4 linked regions of the Homo sapiens genome follow. The protein of the gene in region 4 purifies or fractionates together with the protein of the main gene of each other region. This does not show direct contact. Each region holds a gene or a part of one and is shown on either strand. Other genes may lie near its edges.

The links. Proteins that work in one complex are often made in the same cells at the same time.
Region 1: the proteins of LHX1 (region 4) and AIFM1 purify together in Homo sapiens (affinity purification with mass spectrometry; one large-scale study listed by BioGRID and IntAct). This does not show direct contact.
Region 2: the proteins of LHX1 (region 4) and DGKK purify together in Homo sapiens (affinity purification with mass spectrometry; one large-scale study listed by BioGRID and IntAct). This does not show direct contact.
Region 3: the proteins of LHX1 (region 4) and TMED5 purify together in Homo sapiens (affinity purification with mass spectrometry; one large-scale study listed by BioGRID and IntAct). This does not show direct contact.

The regions. Positions count from the first base shown.
Region 1 is NC_000023.11:130,158,427-130,163,436, forward strand, and holds part of AIFM1 (apoptosis-inducing factor 1, mitochondrial isoform AIF precursor), read right to left. Parts: intron 1-5,010. UniProt on the Homo sapiens protein: Functions both as NADH oxidoreductase and as regulator of apoptosis.
Region 2 is NC_000023.11:50,382,911-50,387,920, reverse strand, and holds part of DGKK (diacylglycerol kinase kappa), read left to right. Parts: intron 1-267; coding exon 268-367; intron 368-1,334; coding exon 1,335-1,563; intron 1,564-3,096; coding exon 3,097-3,201; intron 3,202-3,656; coding exon 3,657-3,753; intron 3,754-5,010. UniProt on the Homo sapiens protein: Diacylglycerol kinase that converts diacylglycerol/DAG into phosphatidic acid/phosphatidate/PA and regulates the respective levels of these two bioactive lipids.
Region 3 is NC_000001.11:93,172,999-93,178,008, reverse strand, and holds part of TMED5 (transmembrane emp24 domain-containing protein 5 isoform 1 precursor), read left to right. Parts: intron 1-5,010. UniProt on the Homo sapiens protein: Potential role in vesicular protein trafficking, mainly in the early secretory pathway. Required for the maintenance of the Golgi apparatus; involved in protein exchange between Golgi stacks during assembly.
Region 4 is NC_000017.11:36,942,068-36,945,896, reverse strand, and holds the end of LHX1 (LIM/homeobox protein Lhx1), read right to left. Parts: intron 3,698-3,829; coding exon 3,532-3,697; intron 3,146-3,531; coding exon 2,766-3,145; 3' UTR 1,285-2,765; downstream 1-1,284. UniProt on the Homo sapiens protein: Potential transcription factor. May play a role in early mesoderm formation and later in lateral mesoderm differentiation and neurogenesis.

The DNA.
Region 1 (5,010 bases), on a different chromosome or scaffold from region 4:
GCCCTGAAGGTTTTATAAAACAAAGCTGGCCAGGCCCCAGGCCCAGAGGTTCTGATTCAATAGATCTGGGATGGGGCTCAAGAATGTGCATTTCTAACAAGTTCCCAGGGGATGCTGCTGTTGCTGCTGCTGCTGTTAGGGTGGGGACCACACATTGAGAACCATCTGTCTAGAGCAGGTATATCCTATCTTTTGGCTTCCCCGAGCCACATGGGAAGAAGAAGAATTGTCCTGGGCCACATATAAAATACACTAACACTAACCATAGCTGATGAGCTAAAAAAAAAAAAAAAAAAAAAAAAAAAATCGCAAAAAAATCTCATAATGTTTTAAGAAAGTTTACAAATTTGTGTTGGGCTGCAGGTTGGACAAGCTTAGTCTAGAGGCTGATACTTATGTCCCTGTCCTGTCTAGGCTTTAAAAGACAAACAGAATGGACACTGGTAGTAGCATCCCATGTATACTTGCAGAGATTAGAGAAGGAATTTCCCCCTTGCTTTCATAACGTTAGGCCACAGACGGGTAAAAACAAGCCCAATGTGGATCTGTGGTCTCTCATCTGAAATCCTGGGGACCATGTATAATTTGGAACTTTGAATTATCTGGTCTTAAGTATATGGGGCATATACCACATAGTGACACCTAGCAAGGTAAAGGGCAGCAATTCATAGTTAAACATATTAATATGACCAATCACGCTAAGTGATATTTTAAAAAGATTATAAAGTAGCCTCTCTCCAGTTCAGGTCAGGTTTTACTGGCAAATGAGTTATGAAAACTTGATAGTCTTAAATTTTGGTCATTCTACAATTTCAATTTCTGAATTACAGATAAGAGACTTTAGATCTACACTCTTAGAAAAGGAAATGTATTTTTCTTTACTGTTCTTCTTACCTGCTTTTAGAACTCTTCATCACCACATGAAATAAAATGGTTGAGATTTGGAAATAATGACAAATCATGAAAATAAAAACGTGAGCGGGGCAGAAACTTATCTCAATCTGGGCAAGCTTTTGATTTTCAGAAGCTTACAAAAATAATGAACCATCAGAAGTAGAAAGTGGTAACTCTCAGAGCTTAGAAAATGAAACTGGTTAGGAAAAGTTCCATGTGATTTAGTTCAATGAATTTAGTTTGTCCTCCACCTCTACCCCTGGTTCATTTACTAAAAATAAATTTTTTTTGTTTTTGTTTTTCTTTTTTTTAATTCTGTTTATTCCTCCAGAAGACCCTAAATACAGACATTATAACAAATTTGTTTTAATATCATACTCATGTTTATTCTCCTTCTGCTTGCTTTTCACAAACTGATAATACTAACAGTGTAGATTTAGGAAAGTTCAGCAGCTTTTGTCTCAATTTGCCAAAAAAAAAAGAAAAAAGCATTTAAAAGTAAATGGACTTTTTTTTTTTGAGACAGGGTCTCACTCTGTCCCCAAGCTGGAGTGCAGTGGCACAATCTCGGCTCACTGCAACCTATGCTTCCTGGGCTCAAGCCATTCACCAGCCTCAGCCTCCTGTGTAGCTGGGACTACAGGCGTGAGCCACCAACGCCCAGCTAATTTTTCTATTTTTTGTAGATACGAGGTTTCACCATGTTGTCCAGGCTGGAAAAGTAAATTGACTTTAAAAAAAAGTAAACTGGTTAATATTTAAACTACTGCTTGAAAAGAAATGTAATACACTACTCTCATTAATAAACCAACTTTTAAAACTTTTTATATACCTACAAAGTGACTTTAATTTTGTAAAATGTACTAAGTATTGTTTGCTTACATTCCCCCTCCCCACATTTTCTTTTCCCTATGAAATTCCTCCCAAACCTTTCTCCCCATAGCTTCAAAATTTTAGGAAATATTACATCGTGACTGAAACATGCCTTTTCACTTGTCTTACTAACATGGAAAAGCCAACTTACTCCTTGACTTTTCATCATGGCAGCAGTTTACTTATTTTAGGTTTTCTGCAGTCAGACCACACATACAATGCAATTTCTTCCTCACACTTAGGATTTCATTCTTAAGAAGCCAGTTTGACCTGTGCAACAGCGCCAGACGACACACAGATGTTTGCTCAATAAATATTTGTTGAATTAATGAAGGAAGGAAATAGAAATTCTTCCTAATTCTATTGATATTGACTGAACATTCTTATTACTATTAAAATTTTTTTTAAATGAAAAGGTATCAGTATGTTGCCCAGACTAGACTCAAACTCCTGGGCTCAAGTGATCCTTCCACCTTAGCCTCCAGAATAGCTGGGACTACAGGCATGCACCATCGTGCCCGGATAACTGAACATTTTAAATAATTCTTTGCAAAGAAATTTTAGCCAGGGCAGGCGCGGTGGCTCACATCTGTAATCCCAGCACCTTGGGAGGCCGAGGTTGGTGGATCACTTGAGACCACGAGTTTGAGACCAGCCTGGCCAACATGGTGAAACCCCGTCTCTACTTAAAAATAAATAAATAAATAAATAAATAAATAAATAAAATGAAAAAATAAACTTAAGAGTTTTTTTTAAAAAAAGCTTTAGCCAGATTCCATTTATTTTAGGTTGCTTAATCATAAATGAGTAACCTCAAACACCATAGACCAGCATTAGAATAGTAGCTAAACTAGCAAGTTCATTTCTGTAGGTTTTGTGATTTCCTGTTTTTCCATACTCCCAAAAGGCGTTTTCCAAAAACACAACTTCACAATTGAGGCACCCAGGGATCCTAAATGGTTAAGAGATCTATACGTTCTTGAGACTTGTTTCCTGAGGGTCAAACTGATTTTTCCAGCATGGAGAAAACACAGGACAGCCAGGTGCGGTGGCTCACACTTGTAATCCCAGCACTTTGGGAGGCCGAGGTGGGCGGATCACGAGGTCAGGAGTTCGAGACCAGCCTGGCCAATACAGTGAAACCCCGTCTCCACTAAAAATACAAAAATTAGCTGGGCGTGGTGGCAGGTGCCTGTAATCCCAGCTACTCGGGAGGCTGAGGCAGGAGAATCACTTGAACCCAGGAGACAGAGGTTGCAGTGAGCTGAGATTGTGTCACTGCACTCCAGCCTGGGCAACAGAGCAAGACTCTGTTTGAAGAAAAAAAAAAAAAAAAAAACACAGGACAAGCCTAGATAGTCTGTCCATTGTAGATAAATGATTCTTTACAAGGGATCCAACAACTATTTATCAGCCTTTTTTTTTTTTTTTTGAGACAGATTCTCGCTCTGTCGTCCAGGCTGGAGTGCAGTGGTGTGATCTCGGTTCACCGCAACCTCCACTTCCCGGGTTCAAGCAATTCTCCTGCCTCAGCCTCCCGAGTAGCAGGGATTACAGGCATGTGCCACCACGCTTGGCTAATTTTTGATTTTTAGTAGAGACGGGGTTTCTCCATGTTGGTCAGGCTGGTCTTGAACTTCCAACCTCAAGTGATCTGCCCACCTTGGCATACCAAAGTGCTGGGATTACAGGCGTGAGCCACCACGCCTAGCTATCAGCCTTTTTTAATTTTTTAATATCAACCCTTGCTGGAATTTTAGAAGAAACAGAGTAGTAATAACTATAGTACAGCGTGAACCATTCTGATGAAAGACACACAAGGAAAAATTATTTAGATAACAAAATAAAATCTCTCTTCTGCAAAGTTAAGTCCTTCACAATGCTGTACTAGGGTTCAGTCACGAGAATTTACCATGTGCCAGAGATGGTACAAGATGCTAAGGACACAAAAATAAATAGGACATAATCCATGTCCTCAGGTAGTGTTTAATTTAGGAGAATGGCTGCTACTATTCTGAATATGAGAAAATGAGCTTGATACAAATCACAAGAGACTCCAGATTGCTCAGTTTGGTTTTTTAATCCTTACGTCAGCAAAACAGAAGGGGAAGAGTCACTACTCATCCAAAACAGTATATACCAAACTTGTCTGATCATATGAATGTCAAGGGGCTTGTTAAAATACAGATTCCCAGAATTATCTCCTGGAGAAGGTTAGGAACTGGTTCTCTACTCGATTCACATGAGCAGGCAACTTTTGGAAACATGATCTAGAAGAAAGCTAAGACATGCAGTAACTCCCTCAAAAAGTTAGAACATTTCTAGAAAATGTAACTTATTAACTGGTTACAGAAAGGGCTGAGCTGCCAAAGAATTTCTTCTGCAAAGCCTTGTCTCAGCAGAAACAACGGGGGAAGACTCATCTTTTAGGCTTCAAAACGAAGTCACATTTGGCAGTGTCCAGGAAGCCAGGATCCTTGCCCACAAGGAGCTCAGTTTCCTTTTTAAAGAGGTGAGAAGGATTCCAAATAGAGAAAAACGTTCAAACATTTGAACCTAAAGTCAGGGAGTCGGTGATCAGTTTGATAACATGGGCAGCACTGTTTGGTGACCAAACAAAATATTATAGAACAGAAAATGTCTATTATCTAACCTATCTGCTCCTCTGTGTCTGAATGCAGACATAGAGTGATGACTATGAGTTACCTTCAATCATCTCTGGAAGGAGGCAGAGCATCCAAATAAATAAAGTAAATAAACAAATAGTAGCTATCATGGTTTTAAGGCAGAATGCAACATATAATGGAAATGAACCTGACAATGGTGACAGATGTCAACGAGATAGTTGCAAGGCAGGTTTAAAGTTTAAAGGTTTGGGAGGCTGAAGCAGGTGGATCACAAGGTCAGGAGTTTGAGACCAGCCTGGCCAGCATGGTGAAACCCCGTCTCTACTAAAAATACAAAAAATTAGCCCGGCGTGGTGGTGCATGCCTGTAGTCCCAGCTACTTGGGAGGCTGACGCAGGAGAATTGCTTGAACCCAGCAGGCAGAGGTTGCAGTGAGCCAAGATCGTGCCACTGCACTCTGGGAAACTGAGCGAGACTCCGCCTCAAAAAAAAAAAAAAAAAAAAGTTTAAAGGTAAGGTGGAGGGAGAAATGGTGTATAAACGAACCTTGCTCTTTCCCACCTGTGCAAAAACACACGGTAGATGCTACTACATGAAAAAGAAATCAGATTAAAAG
Region 2 (5,010 bases), on a different chromosome or scaffold from region 4:
ATTAGTACTAAGAAATGCTGGTCAAGCTCTATTAGGTTCTTGACTTGGGAAGTGGTGTGACACTGAACTAAAGTGGGGATGGAACATATTTCACCATATGCACAGGAAAAAAAAAGCAGAGAGAAAAAGGCTGGGAGCAGAGGGTGAGAGAAAGAGGACAGATCAGGAAAGAGAGAGAGGAGGAGGATGGGGACTGATGACATAAGAGAGAAGGGCTCTGGGCCTCATGGTTCATGTAACATTGTGCCATCTATTTTATCTTTCCAGATTCTTGTGTTCAGCTGTGGAAGATTTTGTGGTTGATATTGTAAAGGCCTGGGGTCAGATAAAACAGAACAACACTGCAATAGTGTCTGTGATTTTGAAAGTAAGTTCCCATTCCTTTTGTCTTATACTCTTTGTGGAGCAGCCAGGGGCCCTTTTTAATAAAAAGCAAACATGCCTCTCACTGGGAATGGTAAAAGAAAGGAAAGGAGGGGCAGCTGTTAAGCCTCCCTGATGAGGAAGGTCTAACCTCATTGAACTTCCATCTTTTGCTAAATGAAGGATGGCGCTCTGCATGCATACACACATACCATGTACATGCCAAGCATCTGCCCACAACTAGACACAAGTGTACATCAAGCAGGTATGTGCATGGTTGTACACCAGAACATGCTTACAAGTATGTACATACGAATACACACTACAAATACATTCACATTTACCTCTCTAACAACAATAGCCAACATTTATATAGCACTTACTCTGTGTCAAGGACTGTTCTGTTTTTAATGTATTAATGTATTTATTCCTCACAACTACCCTAGAATATGGAGGCACAAAGCGGTTAAGAAACTTGCCTCAGATCGCAAACTATTAAGTGATGGAGCTAAGAATCAAGGCCTTAAATCATGCAGCAGATGTAGGTCCCCAAGCCTGTACACATACAAAGACACACACCAAGCACCCAAGCAGGGACACGTTCATATCCAGAGGAGCGTGCCCATGAAAATCCAGAAATATTTGTCTTTCCTCAAGTTTGCATGTTATACATTGTTTTATAGGCCCGTTTGACACAAGAAAGACTCAGCTATATACACTGATGCATGGGGCCACTCAGAAACAAATGATATGTGTTTGATCTCCTAACACCCTTTGGTTATCTCATCACATCTTCCCACCTACTTCTTTTGCTAAGTACTTCATCTTCTCACATGTGGTTTTCTATGCTCAGCATTTATGGACAACTCTTACCCCTCCCTACCCTTCCCCATATCACCACCACTCCTCATTCTGTCCTCTCAAGCATGGGTCCCTCATAACAATGCCCTGTCTCCTTCCTTTCTATATAGAGTGACTTAATGTATGATAGGCTCAGTGTCCTGATCGATGTCCTGGCTGAGGAGGCAGCAGCTACTTCTGCTGAAAAAAGTGCTACAGAATATGCAGACAGCAGCAAGGCAGATAGGAAGCCCTTCATTCCTCAAATAGACCACATAGCCAAGTGCAAGTTGGAGCTGGCTACAAAGGCCCAGAGTCTCCAGAAATCCTTGAAACTCATCATATTTCAAGTTGAACAAGGTAAGGTGGCCAGGGTTGTAGTGACTGAGGTAGGGGAAAGAAAAAGTTCCAGAGGATGGTTTACTGGCCTCACTGACTCCGGGTTTGCTCTCTGACTCTGCTACAAAAAGTCTAGATTCTGCATTCATATTGTATACAAAGTCAGTATTCAGACTACTGATTTGAAAAGCCTCAGTCCTGCTAAGCTGCCCCTTTGGCTCCTCCTACCTCCCAGACAGTCAACTCCTGCTACTCATTTTTGGAAACCAACACTCATCCTATACAATTATATTAATAGATGCTAAGTGACCTGGTTCAAAGCTCTATCAGCTTCCACCACCAGCCATAAGACTTTTTTCCTCCTTCTCCTGTTTCTTTCCAACCACTGAGCCTATGACTATTTTAGAAAGAAAATGGTGTTCAACTCTGCATGTGTTGCACATGATTAATCAGGCACAAGGGCCCTGAGAGTGGTCCTGACAGTTCTAGCATTAATTACCATTGCTCAGAACTCACGACAGTCTGCAAACTTCCCAACTCAGAATGAAAACTCTTCAACTCCCTCAGTTTCTTCATTGAATGTTTTGCTGACCACTTCTTTCCCACAATACTTTGAGAAACAGATCAGAAGGTGGTATAAGAATGAGTGTATTCTAACTGAACTATTGGAACTGAGCAGAAGTCCCATGCAGCAAGGAAGTCCCTTTGGCTGGCCCTTGACTTTTAGCCATGGTGCCTTGCCCTGCCTTGGTACCTTCACGTACAACCTCAGCCAAGTTTCCTAGAAAGAAAGAAAATCTCCCTTCTGCACAGTGGAAGGATTAAACAATCAATTTGCCTCTATTTCTATAATTAGTTTCCAAGCAGTGTGGATCAGATTAAACGGATGTAGCCATAACTGTCGCAACCAACCCTCAGTCTGCTCCATCAACACATATGTTAGATTTAGAGGTGTAGCTTGTGGCTATGAGATAGGAAAATACCTCCCTGGTAGGGGTAGAGATTGAACCTATGAGCTTTGACACAGGCTGAGACTGGGCATCTCAGCTATACAACATTTGGCTGGTGAAAGGAAAGAGACTTCCCAAATGTTCCAGGTGTGGAGTGAGACATTAGAGTGAAAGAGTGGCACAGTCCTAGAGGCTCAATTATAGACAAAAGCCACATAAGTAAATGAACTAATAGAATGGAGGTAGAAGAGCAGAGAGTTTCCCATGCTGATACCCCAATCCACAGCCACAAGCTTCTACTCACAACCACATGTACTGGGTGAGAGAAAAAAGAGTAACCAGTAAAACAAAGAAAGCTCAGGCATGAATATGAAAAAACAGCAACACTGTAAGCAAGCTGAGACTACAAACAGTATCATGGAGGAGACGTGATGGTCGAATGGGAGTCTCCATCATCTACCCACTAACTAAACAAAATAGATGCTCGATAAATGTTCAATAAGTGTAATTAATCTTTCCTTCCTTCCATCCTCCCTCCCTCCTTTCTTCCTCCCTCCCTTCCTCCTTTCTTTTTTGCTTTCCTTCCTCCCACTTTTCTCTATAGCTCTGGATGAGGAAAGCAGACAGACAATATCTGTTAAGAACTTTAGTTCAACTTTCTTCCTGGAAGATGACCCAGAAGATATTAACCAGACAAGCCCACGACGCCGTAAGGATCTTTCTGTCTTCTTCCCTTATTCTAGCCTTCGTCACTGTTGTTTAGCTCCCAAAGAATAAATATGTATTTTTTATGCATCCTCTTTTAGCCATAATCCTGCAGTAGATACCCCTCCGTCTTTCCCAGAAACTCACACTATAAGATCCCATGCCAATGTCCAGAGTAATGACCCCATTAGGAACATTGAAGAGGCTGGCCTGATGAAATACAAGATTTGAAGTTGTTTTCACTGCCAGCAAGCAAGCAGCCCAGCTTTATTCTTCTCTCAGTGGAAGTCCCTATCCATCCAAGAGGATCCCTCTTTGGAATTAGAACCCTTAATATTATCTAGGAGAAAGTCACTGAGCTTGACCCTGCCTCCACAGAGAAAATAGGGCGAAATACAAGTGAGGGGAAAGGGCTTTTTTGTTTGTATCCGTCACCCAAGTGATGTCTTTTGTGTCTAGGTTCTCGTCGTGGCACTTTGTCTTCTATATCTTCTCTCAAAAGTGAGGACCTGGACAACCTTAACTTGGATCACTTACATTTTACACCTGAATCTATGTAAGTATTTAACTCTATCACCTTTTAATGGCTTCTTTCTTTCTCTTGTTAAGAGCACAATCTTAGGATATCCATAGTCAAATCCTTTCTCTTACTTACTAGCTGTGTCACCTACGCAAGTGACTAAACCAGTGTGAGCCTCAGTTTTCTCATATGTAAAATGAAGACCATTGTAGAACTTGCATCATGGGTTTGCTGTATTTATTACATTTATATATGAAAAGTACTTGCACTGAGTAGTGCTTGGCACCCATAATTAAGTGTTATATGCATTTGCAGTTATTATTGTTATTATTATAAATAATTAATAAATGTTAGTTGTTGTTATTACAGAGGACTTGCTTTTTTTCACTGTTGCCCTTAACAGTAAATGGTTGAAGATACTAAAAACTAAAATGGTCACTAGGGGACTAGGCAGCAAATCTAAGGACATCTGTCTCACCAGTTCTCCCTCTTTAGAATATCGGCAGCAGCCAAGTTCTGCCACACTCACTCATTCTGAGTTCCATTAAGAAGATCAGTTTGGACATTAGTTAGAGAAACTCCAATCTCTGGACTGTGGTTGAGGGAGGCAAATCTCATGTGAGAGATGTAAGGTCAGTATGGTAATGAATAAAAAAGTAATCTAAGATTAAACAGCTAAACTGTATCCATTTAATTTCTCAAAAGGACACAGCTAGAAATTATTTATGTTTTCTTAAATAATTTATTTAAGAAAACAATTTTTATTCCTGTCTCCAACCCGCATTCTTGCCCCCACACTTCACCATTGGCTCAAATTTATGTCTGAGCTCTCATGGATCTACCTAATGAATTTTGATCAATAGTGCACTGGCAAAGTGTTTAACAACCTCCTCTCTTGGGGGAGAAAGCCCTGATTCATTTATGGTGTAAACCCTTCCACCATGGCCTATTTAAGTTAGTGATATAATGCCATTGAATCTGGAGTTGGAAAGAGATATGCATAATCAGTTTACATGAGCTGGTGCCAACTGGCTATGGCACACCACTGGTTTTGATGCTGACACCCTAGATGGACACAGGAGACTTGACAAATAATTTGGCTTTTTTGTTATGTACATATCTACCCTCTTTTATCAGTCTTTCCTTCCAAATGTGTGGTCATTTTCCCCTTTGATGTCGGACATCACTGAGAGCAGTTGTGCAGACTTAACTGTCATGGCACGTTTGTGTCTAGGATATTCAAAAGTTCTTTATAGGAGTAAACAGTATTTCCCTTAATACTACATATGAAGA
Region 3 (5,010 bases), on a different chromosome or scaffold from region 4:
ACAATTTGTATTAATAAAAAAATCTTCAGTATTTACACACATATTAGGGAAGATATCTATTTTAACTACTGTCCTCTTATAGTTAAGAGCACCAGCTCTTAACCTTAGCCTGGGTTCAAATCTTGACTCTGCCTACTTAAAACTTATGTGATCTTCTCACTTGTAAAATAGAGATAATAATTGTAACTACATCATAGAGTTGATTTGAAAAAGCATGAGTTAATAAATGCTCATATTCAGTGTAAAGTAGTCTATTAAAAAATGCTCATAGATCATCCCTGACACATAGTAAATAATCAATGAATGTTAATTTTACATTTATACCTCTATAGTTATGTAGCTGGCTTGGTTTAGCTTTATTCTTTACATCTTTAGTCACTCTTAAAGGGACTGTTCCTTTTTTTTTTTTTTTTTTTTTTTTTTTGAGACAGAGTCTCCCTCTGTCACTCTGTTACCCAGGCTGGAGTGCAGTGGCGCGACCTTGGCCCACAGCAACCTTCATCTCCCGAGTTCAAGTGATTCTCCCGCCTCAGCTTCCCGAGTAGCTGGATTACAGGCATGTGCCACCACACCCAGCTAATTTTTGTATTTTTAGTAGAGACGGGGTTTCACTATGTTGGCCAGACTGGTCCCAAACTCCTGATCTCAAGTGATCTGCCAGCCTCAGCCTCCAAAGTGCTGGGATTATAGGTGTGAGCCACCGCGCCCGGCTGGGACTATTCCTTTAAAACATTCTCCCTAAACAATTTGTTTTGATTAAGGAAAGAGGTAAAATCATTTGTCTGTAATCCTAGACAGTGTTGGTGAGATGTGTAGGGTAACTATCATCTTCCACCCTGTTTGTATTTCCCAACTTGTTTAATTTCCCAGTAACTACATCCTACTAATTTTTGTCTTAAAGTTAGTTTTTAAAATTTTATAGAACAATCTAGTTTTGTCCTTGGTTACTTATTGAAAATTTTACTAATTTCTTACTTTTTAGGTTTTAGGAGAATACTTTTTGGATAATTGACTAGCCTCACATTATATTGATAGAGGTTCTTGAAAACTTTAATGCCAATTCATGTATCTTATGACTAAAATAGATAATCCATTTAGAAATTTAAGTCATTCTTGCGTGCTTGATATGTGTCAGCACTATCCAAGTTGCTAGGGATACAATGGTGAGTGAAAATATCAGCTAGGTGCAGTGGCTCACACCTGTAATCCCAACAGTTTGGGAGGCCAAGGTGGGAGGATCACTCAAGCACAGGCGTTTCACACCAGCCTGGACAACATAGCAAGACCCCATCTCTACCAAAAATAAAGTTAGCCAGGCATGGTAGCACACACTTGTGGTTCCAGCTACTTGGGAGGCTGAGGTGGGAGGATCACTTGAGCCCAGGAGGTTGAGGCTATGGTGAGCTGTGATCACACCACTGTACTCCAGCCTCGGTGACAAGAGCGAGACCCTGCCTCAAAAAAATATATATATATATGTTTGTGTGTGTGTGTGTGTGTATAGTCTGTGCCCTCATACAATCAAGTATTAATTAATCAAATTATTACACAAATACATGTCAAAATATTTACTAGGGGTAATGAAGGTAAGTTCATAAGACTATGAGTGGGCTCAGTAGGAGGACTTCATTTTATCTGGAAATTGAAAGACATCCAGAAGTAGAGTTAAGATCTACAGAATTATCAGACTTTCACTAGGCATAATGGAATGAGTGGTACGAGACAATGGGTAAAAAAGAACAACAACGTGCCAAGATACTAAGGAAGAAGAGAGAAAGATACCTTTGAGGTCCTGAAAGATAGGATACAGAGAGAGAAAAGTGGTACAAGTCTACTTTAGAGAAGTCAGTAGCAACAGCAACCAAATCATTGTGGGCTTTTAGGTCCTTGTTAAGGATATGGGTCTTTTGCAGAGACCAGTAATACGCCACTGAATAGTTATAAGCAGGTTAACTCGATCTGTGTTTTTTAAAAGATCGTTTTGGCCACAAGGTATTGAGCCTCTCTGTACCAGTTTCTATACTTTAACAGTAATCACCTGCTCCCCACTATATATTATTGTGAAGAATAAATATGCTAATACATGTAAAAGGAATGGTATCTAGCACCAAATAAGCACTCAAAAAATGTTAGCTAGAAAATAAACCCTGAGCCTAGAACAACAATACTTTTTTAAGGGCATAATAGGCACTAAAAAGTATCTATTGAATGAGTGAACCAGACGTTTACCAAACATGTAAAACTATCTGGGTGAGTTTTTGGGAGAATATAGCTATATCAATTTTTAAAAATTTTTATTAGTCTTTCATTTTTGTATAGAGCCAAATTTCAATATTTTCTGGTAAACTGGCCATTTCATCTAATTTTTAAAATTTACTTGTATAATATACCTGATGCCATTTGGAATATCTCCTATTTCCATTTTATCTACAGGTATACATGCCTAATATTACATGTATAAAGTAGATAGGACTACTTTATTGATCTTTGGGAAAAAATGTCTTTTGAGTATTTATTATTTTTTGTTTTATATACATACACACACATATCTATTATATATACACACATTTTATACATATACAAAATATATAATATATTCATATACATATAAATGTATATGTATATATAAATATGTATATAAAAAAACAAAAACTCAAAAGCCATATATGTGTGTGTGTGTGTGTGTGTGTGTATATATATATATATATAGGCATAAGGGAGTAAGTGGAACAAGACAATGGATTAGAAGGCACAACATGTGCCAAGATACTAAGGAAGAAGAGTGAAAGATACCTTTGAGGTCCATTTATATATATATATATATATATATATAAATGGCTTTTAAGTATTATATAAATATATATATATAAATGGCTGGGTTTTGGGGAGAATAATATATTTAATAATTTAATATATATATTTGGGTTTTATGTGAGTCTGTGTGTGTGTATATATACTTTTTTTTTTTTTTTAAGAGATAGGGTCTCCAGCAATCCCATTACTGGGTACACACCCAGAGGAATATAAATCATTCTACCATAAAGACACATGCATGCGAATGTTCAGTGCAACACTATTCACAATAGCAAAGACATGGAATCAACTAAATGCCCAGCAATGACAGTTTGGATAAAGAAAATGTGGTACATATACACCATGAAATACTATGCAGCCATAAAAAAGAATGAGATCATGTCTTTTGTGGGAATATGGGTTGAGCTGGAGGCTATTATCCTTAGCAAACTAACACAGAAACAGAAAACTAAATACCACGTGTTCTCACTTAGAAGTGAGAGCTAAATGGTAAGAACTTATGAACACAAAGACGGAAACAACAGACACTGGGATTTACTTGAGGAGGGAGGGTGGAAGGACAGAGAGGCACAGAAAAGTTAACTATTGGGTACTGGGCTTTATATCTGGGTGATGAAATACTAAGTTGGTGCAAAAATAATTGTGGTTTTTAACACGTTTACCTATGTAACCTTCACATGTATCCCCAAGCCTAAAATAAAAGTTAAAAAAAAGAGAGATATGGGGTCTCACTATGTTGCCTAGGCTGAATTTGAATTTGGGCACAAGTGATACTCCCACTTCAACCAGCCTCCTGGGTAGCTGGGACTACAGGCACATGCCACCACACCTGTCTCCTTTATGAATTTTTTTACTTCCAATTATAAAAGTAATATACAACCTCCTTAGAGTAAGTCAAACAATACAAAGATGTAAAAGCAAAAAAAGCTGGGTGCGGTGGCTCACACCTGTAATCCCAGCATTTTGGGAGGCCAAAGTGGGTGGATCACGAGGTCAGGAGTTGGAGACCAGCCTGACCAACATGGTGAAACACCATCTCTTAAAAAAAAAGAAAAAACAAAAAACAAAAATTAGCTGGGCGCAGTGGTGCGCGCCTGTAGTCCCAGCTACTCGGGAGGCTGAGGCAGGAGAATCACTTGAACCCGGAAAGCAGAGATTGCAGTGAGCCGAGATCGTGCTGCTGCACTCCAGCCTGGGTGACAGAGTGAGACTCCATCTCAAAAAAAAAACAAAAAAAAACCTCTTTGTAACTCTATTGAATGCCTGTTGTCATTCTCCTAGATGTGAACTCTTCCACACCTTTTCCCATACTCATAAAAACATATAGGGTTTGATGGGGTGAAACACATATGATTATTTAATTAAAATGTCATGGTCTTTAAGTCCTTACAAAGTTTTTACCAATAGGTAAACAAACCAAATCAGTTTTTAATAAGGAAGTCTATTGGTTCATATAACTGGAAGTCTGAATAGGACTGATTTCAGGCTTAATTTGTTTTCCTCTGGTTCTTACGGCTCTGCTCTCTTGACTTTTCTTAAAGAATTGAATTACTTAAAGAATTCTTCACTGACAGATATTTTTCCTAAATGCATCAAAACTAGTATTTTATTGTCTTCTGACTTCGATTATAGCTGTTGAAGCTTCCTGTCAGTTTGTTATATATTTGTAGTTCATCTCTATTTTCTCTTGTAGCTTTTTAAATTTTCTGCTTCTGCATTTTCACTGCAGTTTAAGTGGATCATCCAAGCTTCTTAATCTCTCATAATTTCTCTCTTTGTCTCACTCTCCTATTTTATGGATAATTTCTTCAGCTCTATCTTCTACATCATTAGCTTTAAAAATTTATTATCAGTATTATTTTTGATTGGCAAATTATAATTGTATACATTTATGCGGTATAGCGTGATGTTTTGATACATATATACAACATGTAATGATTAAATCAGGCTAATTAACATTGCCTTGCCTATAATTTTTTATGATGAGCTATTTGAAATTCAGTCTCAGTTATTTTGAAATATACATTATTATTGACCATAGTCACCTTCCTGTGCAATAGATCTCAAAACCTATTCCTTCTGTCTATCAGAAACTTTGTACTCTGTGATCAACAGCTCCCTATTCCCTCTCTCCCCAAGTCCCCCACCCCCAGCTTCTGGTAACCATCGTTCTACTCTCCACTTTTAGGAATGGAA
Region 4 (3,829 bases):
TTCATTTAAATGAATGTCTTTAAAGGGGGCTAGGGAGTAGAGGCTATAATGAATAAGTTAGCTAGGATTTAATGTGTATAAATGCTAAAAAGGTAAAAACAAGCCGATCCAGTGATTGCATATAAAGCAAATAAAGAAATGTGCTGCATGCAGAGGCTGGGAGTTTCAAAAGTCTCCTCTGTATTTCATACATTTTTATTTCTGAAAGAACACTGCCAGATTCCTCCCGGATAGCCTCCTCCCCCATTAGATAAGCCATCATATGGATGCAGTGAAATATTGCTTATTTTAAAGCCTTCTCTGCAGGAAAGATAAACTTGGCTGTGTCTTAACAAAATTTGAAAACAGCACTGGAAATTATATACCATTTAATGTCAAACCTTTGACTTTTTAAATAAGGAAATAAATAATCCAGAGTGAAATCTAGGTGATATGGAAAAGAAATCCTGGAACTCTAATAGCATCTGATACTGAAACACACACACATCCACAAGAATATTTCATAGTAGATAAAATATTCAAATTTCTTCCAAGTCTAATGAAGGACTGGAAAGAATCGAGCTACTTTTAGAACCTTTTGAGTTGAAATTTGATTTTGATATTAGTTATTTTTGTTCATCTTTCAGAGAAACTTAATATGTATCTTGTGCCAGGCAAAATAGTTTTCCTTCTGGGGAACTTCAAAGGTAACAAATACTATAAAACAACAATTTCATATCAGTTCTGTGAAAGGGATTAAAGTATTTCATTTCTAGCTGTACTATACATTCATTTTACATTATCTTTCAAACCACCAAATTAGAAAGCCTTTACATTATCTTTCAAACTACCAAATTAGAAAGCCGGATTATCTATAGGAAATGAAATGAAACTGAAAAGGACCACCTCTAACTATGTATTACAAGTATCTGATACAAGCCCAGTTTTGCATGTGCAGGGAGAGTGAAAGAGGGAATGCCTTGGATCTTATGCCTAATCACAGACCTGGACCACTCATTTTTTAGCCATGGATTTGATTTCTATTTCAAATTCTATATTAACTTATCAGCAAACATCTCTTCAACGGTATCAGTTAAATCCACAGGATGTAAATCTGTAGCTAATAACAGCAGGAAGCCACAGAGAAAAGCTTGGCTGGCATTAGCAAAAGGTTTCAGCCATAGCCAAGGCAAAAACAGATATATCATCCCAATCCTGCCTCTCTTTTCCACCTGGCTTCTGAGGACCCATTCAGCTCCCCATCAGGGTTCCCCTTTGAAAACATCAAATAACACACCAATTATCTAAACATCAGATTTTCTATTTTTATTAAAAACTCACAAATTTATTCAACATGTTTTCTTTCATACAGTGAATGGTCTAATATGCACTGGAGGTCACACAAGCTTAGGTTTATTAGAACAATAAAAGACATATGAGAAATTTAATATATAAAGAAAAAGTAGCAGCTGTTGACTGCATATTTGACCATAAAATTTAAATATTTTGGACTTTTATTTTAAAGACACAAAAATAAAACCTGTGTGGGTCTATATAAGTCATATTAACAATTCCATGAATGTTCAACAGGACAAAAAAATTAGCAAAGATGTTTTTTTTTAAATCTTGTAACACTTTTTTTTTTTTTTTTTTAACACTTTCTCAGGTTGCTGGTGCCAGGCACCTTTACAGTATTTGTGCTATAATTATTCTATTTGGCAACTGTCTGAATAGCATGTTTTCTCTTTGCCTCGTGTAAACAACACCTTTTTACATACTAGCACAGTGAGCCGAAAGCCCTGCAAATCTGTCAGAACATCTACAGGAAAAGAAAAGGAACAATTTTGGTTGATTGCTCAAAACATTTTGTTTTCGAACAAGAGGTTTCAAAACAGGATATATTAGTAAAACACTGAACTCCTGAATTTAACATTATACGTAAACAGTTGACTGTTTTTAGTTCAATAGTCTTTTTTTTTTTTTTTAACTTTTTGTGTGTGAAGGTAGAATACTTTTCTTGTACAGCTGATGTTCAAGTCATTTTACTGAGCGGTCTGGCTGGAGACCATCTTACCGAGTGTGTCCGTGTACGTGTGTATGTGTGTATGTGTAGTTTTGCGAAGGTAGAAGAGTTGATACGGAGGGCTTTACATTTAGAATTTTGCAATTTTGGCAAAAACAAAAACCAAAAATCCAGATAGACAAAAAATATATATATAGTCCCACCTGATGCACGGCAGGTCGGCGTTTCTGAAGCTATAAGAGTTTTTTGTCGCTGTTGTTGAACTCTGAGACAACACTAATAAGGGATATCCCAGAGCTAGAACCCTCCTGGCTGGCCCGGGAGCGCCCTGGGCCGCTTCACTTCCTTCACCCGGCTGTGCTCACGGCCTCCCTCCCCACGGCTCCTGGCATCGCCAACGGCTGTGCGCACCCGCGGCTGCCCTGGACGTCTTTTCGCCGCCCGCCTGCCAGGCGCACACGCCCGCGGGGTCTGTCTACGGATCCGGGTCCAGGTGGGAGTTGGGGAGAGGTCTGCGTTTCCTTTGGGGAGCCCCAGTTCTGCACGTCGACAGCCAGTGCGCGGATCCCAGTCCCACCTCGAGGCCGATTTGGATCCTATTTCGTGTCCCCCTTTTCCATCCGGTCTCCCCAGAAGGAGAATGGTTCTCGAGGCTGGAGGAAGGGGGTGGGGACTTGCTTTTTATGTTTTTTTTTTTCTATTTTTCTTAAATAAAGGTTCATTTCTGTACAACCACGAACTCCGCAGACCGTGCGAGACCCCGCTACCACACGGCCGCCTCGTTCATTTCGGGGGGGTGGGACAGGTGGTTTCCGTAGCTCGCCCCACCGTTGACCGACAGCGACGAGAAGGGCGGGCTGGGTCCGAAGACCTCGGCCGACATGGAGTGCAGAGGCCCGGGCAGGCTGGGCTCGGGGCTGGGCGAGTCCCCGGGTGGGTGCGCCAGGATGTCGGTAAACCGCTGCGCCTCGCTCGACGGGTGGTGGCCCGGCAGCGGGTGCTCCAGGCCACCCAGGGGCGTCCCGGACGGCCCAGATGACGGCACGAAGGGTAGGTCCACTGGTGTCTGGGCCTGCGAGGACGGGGGGCCTTGCGGGAAGAAGTCGTAGTTGCCCCCGGGCCCGTAGTACTCGCTCTGGTAATCTGCGGAGCGGCGGGGAGGGCGCAGGACGTCAGGGCCCGGCCGGGGGCCGGCGGGACCGAAAGGGAGGGAAGACGCGACCTCGGCGGGCTGAGGAAGGCCGCGCGGGGAACTCGCGGATCGCGGGGAGCCCTCGCGGGCCTGGGTGCAGGGAGGAGGCTGGGCGCAAGCCCGGGAGCTGCCCCTTACCAGCTACCCCCGTTATTCAGGGCCGTGAATTGGGTCCTCGGTCTCGCCGCCTCCCCTTGATTTACTCCCAGCCTTCTCCCTACTCGCCCCAACTCTCCAGTGGCTTACAGAGAGCGAGGCGTGCCCCCCCGCGCTGCCACCCGCTTCCAACGAAGCCCGCCCCGACCTGGCCGCGCCCCGCCATTCGGCGCGCACCCACCTCCGTAGAAGGAGAAGGGACCATTGGGGATGAGCTCGCCCGGCTCCAGGCGGTCCACCAGCGGCCGCATCCGGCGCGGACTGCGGAAGAAGGCGTGGCGCCGGGCGCCCAGGGCGCTCAGCTGCTTCATCCTCCGCTCCTTGGAGCGCCGGTTCTGGAACCAGACCTGCAGCACATGGCGGCGGGGTGAGGCCACCGAGACTCCACCCCCGACCCCGGGGTGCTCCGGGCCTAGCCAGCACCCCTTCACCGCCTGGCTAGCCGACACCGCGCGCGCGCGCTTGTGTGTGTGTGTAGG